2 linked regions of the Homo sapiens genome follow. The protein of the gene in region 2 interacts with the protein of the main gene of each other region in a pairwise test. Each region holds a gene or a part of one and is shown on either strand. Other genes may lie near its edges.

Region 1 (3,500 bases), on a different chromosome or scaffold from region 2:
TACCAGGCATGCTTGCACACAAAGGACCATGTGAAGACACTGTAGGAAGGCAGCCATCTGAAAGCCAGGAAGAGAGGCCTCAGAAGAAACCAAACCTGCTGACCCCTTGATCTTGGACTTCCCAGCCTCCAGAGCTGTGAGGAAATAAATGTATGCTGTTTGAGCCACCCAGTTTGTGATATTTGATTGTGACAGTGCTAGCAGACTAATACAGTAAGTATTTAGTAAATGTGGAAAACAACAGACTGGATGGTGTTGAGGACTTAAAAAGATATAAAACAAAGTCTCTGCCCTCCGTGAGGTTACAATTTAGTGATCCCAACACAGTTCGAGCCTTGTCTTGGGCAGCTTCACCGCACCTACGACTTAACCTTGGAAAGTGCCGTAGGCCCTACCTGCCGCTGCTGCAGCTGCTGCAGGCCATGCTGCCGTTCTTCCTCTGAATTGTAGAAGGGCATGGAAGTGCGCAGTGGAATCAAGAGCTGACATATTTTCTCATGGATGCTGTCCCAGTCAGCCTTCTGATGTACCACCCCACTGACAACGGAAACATAGACTTTATGATCTTTATATTTGGCATGACTTAAGATTCCATTAACCCTCCTACTGGCCTATCCCTAGACACCAGAAAAGTAAGCCAAATACAAACCAGGCAGGGAGCTCAAAGCCATTTCTGAGACTCAAATCTCTTTCCTTTCATGTGGTTATTTGATGATGTATAAACTGTGTTGGGATTGGAGAGTATGTTGTTTCTGCAGGCACACATTCACATTCTGAAGTCACACAGGGATGCTGGCATGCAATTGCTCATAGTGTTCTCTTATAATCTCTTTTATTTCTGCAAGGTTGGTAGTAATGTCCTCACTTTCATTTCTGATTTTAGTAATCTGAATCTTCTTTTCTAGGCCAGTCAACCTAGCTAAAGGTTTGTCAATTTTGTTGGTCTTTTCAAGGAGCCAACTTTTGGTCTCATCAGTTCTCTCTGTAGTTTCTTTATTCTCTGTTTTATCTCTGCTATAATCTTTAATTTTCCTTTCTTCTGCTAGCTTGTGTCTATACCCAACACAGGGCTGTGCATAAAGGAGTTTATAAATATGTTTTAGTTTGCTCTTCTTTTTCTAGTTTCTTAAGATGAAATGCTAGGTTACTGATTTGAGATCTTCTTTTCAATGTAATGTATATTAGTATAAATTCATATGAGTACTAAATTCATACAGTAACCTCTGAGTACTGCTTTGCCAGCATCTAAGTTTTAGTATGTTGTTTTTGTTTTCATTTATCTCAAAGCATTTTCTAATTTCCTTTGTAATTTCTTCTGTGACTCATTGGTTAAGAGTGTGTTATTTCTACATATTTGTAAATTTACCAAATTTCCTTGTTATTGACTACTAATTTCATTCCATGTAGGTGGAGAACATACTCTGTATGAAATCAATCTCTATAAATTTATTGAGATTTATTTTATGGTCTAATATATGTTCTATCCTGAATAATGTTCTATACGCACTAGAGAAGAATAGGCATTCTCATGTTATTGAATGGTGTTCTACAGATACCTGTTAGGTCTAGTTGGTTTATAGCGTGATTCAAGTCTTATATTTCCTTGCTGATCTGTCTAATTGTTCTATGCATTACTGAAAGTGGGATATTTGATCTTCTATCTAGTTGTTCTATTCATTACTGAGAGTGGGATACTGGATCTTTCATCTAGTTGTTCTGTTCATCACTGAAGGTAGGATATTGAAGTCTTCAACCATTATTATTAAATTGTCTATTTTTCTCCCCAGTTCTGTCTGTTTTTGCTGCATGTATTTTGAGGCTCTGTTGTTAGATGCATAGTCATGGGTTTTTGCATTTCTATTGCTTATTACACATTTTCACTTAAATGTAAGTTAACTGTTTGATTCCATTTATACATATTTCAAAACAGGTAACAATAATCTAGAGGAGGGATCAGAAAAGCTTTTCTGTAAAGGGTCAGATAAATATTTTAGGCTTGAGAGCTATAGGATCTCTGTTGCAACTACTCAACTCTGCTGTTGTAGCACAAAAGCAGCCACAGACAATATATAGCCATGTTCAAGCACCTTCTTGGACAATATTGCCACCTTCTTGGACAATAGAAATGCAATTAAAGTATATTCTTTACAAGTTGTGACTGCTACCAAAGAAATGACAGAAACCATTTAAAATGTTTTTGGGGAGGTAGAGAATTATTATAAACAGATCAATAAAAGCACTTAGCCAGGATATAGCTGAGTTCCACAGGGAATTTATCAAGTGGGGCTTGTAAGCAATGGAAATGTTAACTTAGATGCCTGAACTTTTGTTCCACTGAGAGCCACTAACATATCTTGCCTTTCTAAATAAAGTGAGCTTTATTTATATATTTGCGGGCTCCCTGCTTATTGATCTGTCCCACCTGTAACACCTAACACAGGGTCAGGGATAAAGTAGGAATGGATAAATGCTTTCAATCAGGGCTCACAATTAAGTAGCTTGTGAGCCACATGTTTTGTTTGGCTATTATCATGTTTTTTTTTAAGCTGAATTTGAATATCTTTAGGTAGGGCATTCATTCTACAATTCACCACTGATCCTATAGCTTCCTATTATTGAATACCACTTCACTGTTTGTTTTCTTAGTGATCTGCAATATTTTTTGCAATAATTTTTCCTTTTGTTTGACATATGAAGCGCAAATTTAAATGCCGTCACTGGCCAGGAGAAGAAAACGAATGGTGAAGTGGTATTCAAGAACAGGAAGCAATAGTATTTGTAGTGAATTACAGAATGTACGCCCTGACTAAAGACATTTAAATTCATGCAAACCTATGGTACTGAAGTCTCTTTTACTTGTCACCAATGTTTTAGTATGTACTTCCATAAAATTACCTTTTCTTAAAAATGTTCTACTGTCCTGTAATCCCAGCACTTTGGGAGGCCGAGGAGGGCGGATCACAAGGTCAGGAATTCGAGACCAGCCTGACCAATATGGTGAAACACCGTCTCTACTAAAAATACAAAAAAATTAGCCAGGCGTGGTGGCGCATCCCTGTAATCCCAGCTACTTGGGAGGCTGAGGCAAGAGAATTGCTTGAACCCGGGAGACAGAGGTTGCAGTGAGCCAAGATGGTGCCACTGCGCTCCAGCCTGGGTGACAGAGCAAGACTCCGTCTCAAAAAAATAATAAAAAAATAAAAGTTCTACTGTGTCTCTAAAGTAAATAAAAATGTGCTATTCTCTGAGAATGGTCATAATCCACTATAGAGCAATATGCACAAGATTACACACAATATATAAAATAAATGTATTCAGAGAAAAGAAGGAAATTCACCAAAATTTCAGGTTATTAATCCCTGGGTTGTGGGACTATGGCTTATTTTTCTTCTTGATTTTTTATATTTTCAGGTTTTCTGCAGTGAGCATGAATTGCAATTATAATCAGGAAAAAAATTCTTTTGCAGAAAAAAACTTTCACAAATTCAGACTGACTTTCT
Region 2 (3,500 bases):
TTCAGGGACACAGGGAGACTGCCCTGATGCAGCAGGGGGAGCAGAGAGGCAGGGCTGGATGAGGTCGAGGGAGCTGTCCAGGGAAGGACGATGGGGCAGCCCTTATTCACAGGGGATGGGTAGGTCTTGTGCAGTATCATTTGGCATCTGTTACCTACTGTTCCTATTTCTTTGTGAACCTGCTATGTGTAAGGCCCAGTGCTAGGCATTTATATATACAGACTCTCTTCCCCCATGTTGTAAGCTTCTTGGGGGCAGGGAATGTGCCATACGTTTCCATATCCCTAACGCCTAGCATGATGCCTTCCAGAGAGGTGCTCATTTGTGCCCTACCAAAGGGTTCACGGAAGGATGCAGAGGTAGAGCTCACTACTGCTCACAGACACACCACATTTGAGGACATCAGGCAGGTGCTCTTGGGGGTCCACCAGGTGAGCCACCTCCTCTTAGGAGCTGGGGCTATCTATACAGGTTCATCTGGGCTGTGGTGGGCGTAGTAGGAGCACTGCCCCAATTTCTTCTGCCCTCTTCCAGGCAGAAGTGGCTATGTGGCCTGGCATGGTGGGCTCCTTGGCTGGTTGGCGAAGCGTCTGCATGAGATGCTATCTCGCCAGCTGAGTGGGGCCTGACTGTGGGCAGAGCCACGAGAAGGGAGGGTGGCGGGGCTCTCTCTTACCTTTCAGCATTTGCCACCTGAGGCACCAAGCACAGATCAGCCATGGTCACCTGAAAGAGGTCCCGGTGGGTTCCCATCAGGGTGCATACCCCAGAGTCAGTGGCTGGACTGGGTGTGTCCACTGCGACTCTACTGGGGGTACCAACAATCTGCTTCGGCTCTTTCACCCATCCCACCTCCAATTCTTGTCTGCCCTAGGCCTGCATGAGTCTGTCCCCCGGAGCTGAAGTGCCCTCCCAGGCCATGCTCCAGTTGCCCTGACAACCAACTCTGTGGGTTGAGAGGGCCAGAGAAGATGGATTGCCTTGACTGCGCAGACATCATCTAGCACAATCCCTCAACTGATGCTGGCCCGCCTCATCCTCTCACAGCCAGTCTTCTACCTTGAGTAACTCCCTCTTAAGACGGTTTAGTGGGAGTGAGCTGAGGAGTGCCCCATGGCACAGAGATCCCCCTGCAGACGCCTTCTCAGGAAGCTCTGAGCTTGAGGGAGGTCAGCATGAGGGAGGCAGCCACTGTGGCTGGGCCTGGGGAGGTCTGGGGACAGCTTACCTCGTCTCCTACACAGTATATGCCCGCTGTGCTCTGTAGGATCTGCTCCAGGGCTGTGGGGAGGCCACATAAACATCTTATTCTGGGCGCAGGGAGGGGACACAAAGCTTTCTGGGCCTTGGCCTCCATAGTTATGAAATGGGCGCCCAACTGAGTGACAGACTGGGCATGGCTGCTGGTGAGAATGTGGCAGCCAGGTCTCGAGAGAGCTGTTAGGGATGAGCTGCTGTTTCCTGAGGCTCCGCACAGACAATCACCATTTCCCCACTCGAGTGGACAAGCCCTGCCACTGGCCACGGTGACAGCTCTCACTCTGATGGCTGGCGCTGTGCTGGCCTTGGTTTCCCAGCTGGAGTAGGCAGTGAAGCTGAAGTTGGGCCATCCAGCTATGAAGGGCTGTGGGCTCAGGGACCGAGGTTCCCAGAAGTGCTGGAGCTAAGGTCTGGATGCCCACCCAGCCCATTGCCTCCCCAGTCCTGCCCTCATCCATGCAACTGTCAGGCCCAAAGCAGCCTGGGAGGCTGGTTCAGATACCCAGGCCCCTGTGTGCGAGGGCCATACCTCTAAGAGGCCACTGTGGGGCAGCTCACAGAGGTGAGGACTCACCGTTAAAGCCACAAGTGATGGCGTTCTGGGCCCAGGTCAGCTGCATCTCCTCTCCCACTTGCTTCAGGACAGACAGGTTCTGTGCAGCCCAAAGAAAATCTGTGATTGCGCTGACAGCTGGGTGGGGGCTACCCCTTCGCCAAACCCCCTCAGGGAAGTTCACTTCCCATCTGCCCCTGGCTGGATGTCTATCCCTTCTCCCCCAGGCTCCATGAGCCCCTTCCTTCAACCAAGGGCCCTGAGGTTGGAGGGAGGTAGCCATCCCAGCAGCCACCTTTGCAGGCTGCCCCAGTGGCCTCAAAAAGCCACGTGATTCTGTCAGAGATGTGCAAGAATCCCTATTCATGTGACACAGGACGCGGCCATGGCTGTGGCAGGTGTGCCCACAACTCGAGGCCTGTCTCCCTCACTTCTCCCTTGCATGGTCCCTTGTGAGGAGAGGGAGTGTGAAAGAGGGTGGGGCTGGGATGAGGGAGGTCCACAAGACCGGCTTCCAGAGATTTCCAGCCTGGCTCCATCTTGGCACCCCTGGAGCCATTTTCCCTCTGTTTCCTCATTATAAAATGGAGATGTCTGTCTGCTCCAACATCCTTTGTTAAAGCGACATGCGGGTAGAGGGCATAGGCATGCAGGGATTCTGACTTAGTCCCCACTTTGTTATGACCTACCTGTGGGACTCCTAAGTCACTCCACCTTTCTGGGGCTATTTCCTCATTCAGAGTAGAAGCTGGCACAGATGAACTGTTTTTAATACTTAGTTGTCTGTTTTAACAGTGACACTTAAAAAATAAAATCCTACAAGTATCCCAGTATATGACTGAGATAGCACAGATGAAACGGAAGCTGCTCTGGTTAAAGGCAGGAGGCCTGGACTGGGGCCTGCTCAGTCTCTCCCCTGCCATTCTGGCCCTTTCCCCACCCCAAGCACCTGTACATGCGTCCTTGGAAACTAGAGCTTCTCGGAACGCAGCGGGGGACCCGCTGGGGGGCTGAATTCTGAGATTGCGATCTTCACCCCCTTCTTTCACATGGTCCAGGTCAGAGGCCCTGAGAATCCCCCTCCCTCCCTTGACACCCCCGCCCCCACACTGGGCAGCTCACAGCCAATGTGTGAGTGTAAGAGTGTGTCAGGTGTGCAAGGGTGCAAGTGTACAAGTGCCACACCTGCAGGGGCTGGATGCCACCAGCGATGAGGTCAGAAATCATACGCACGCTGGCCCTCTTCTTTGGGTCCTGAGGCAGAAGTCGCGGAGTGGGACGCATCTCCTCTAGATACTCAATGATGGCCAGCTGTCCAGAGGGGAGCAGTGAGGCAGGGAGAGGGCCCAGGACCCCTGGACCAGAGGGGACAGGGCCAGCAAACTCCTCCTTCTCCTCTTCCAGCACCATCACTACACCTCTTCCCCCCTGCTTCTGCTCAGCTCAAGCCCTATAAGCCTTTTTGGACCTTATCATGCAGAACTTGGTTCTCCATGTGCTTGAATCTTCCCTTATTTTCCTAAATAACCTCGCACCCTCCCCACGAGTCTTGTATTGAGCCTCTCCTATGTGCTAGGCACCTTGACTGTACACAGGCGAGGAAGAGATGTCAGGCGCTCTCATTCAGGGCACTGCTCTCATGAGGGCCCTCCCCCAGGCCCTGCACTCACTGACTGGTGAATGGTGA

The links.
Region 1: the proteins of GSTZ1 (region 2) and ZMYND12 interact in binary tests that used the Homo sapiens proteins (3 or more experiments, as listed by UniProt).

The regions. Positions count from the first base shown.
Region 1 is NC_000001.11:42,449,523-42,453,022, forward strand, and holds part of ZMYND12 (zinc finger MYND domain-containing protein 12), read right to left. Parts: intron 538-3,500; coding exon 396-537; intron 1-395. UniProt on the Homo sapiens protein: Required for sperm flagellum function and male fertility.
Region 2 is NC_000014.9:77,327,536-77,331,035, reverse strand, and holds part of GSTZ1 (maleylacetoacetate isomerase), read right to left. Parts: coding exon 3,484-3,500; intron 3,125-3,483; coding exon 2,999-3,124; intron 1,914-2,998; coding exon 1,835-1,913; intron 1,282-1,834; coding exon 1,229-1,281; intron 727-1,228; coding exon 677-726; intron 1-676.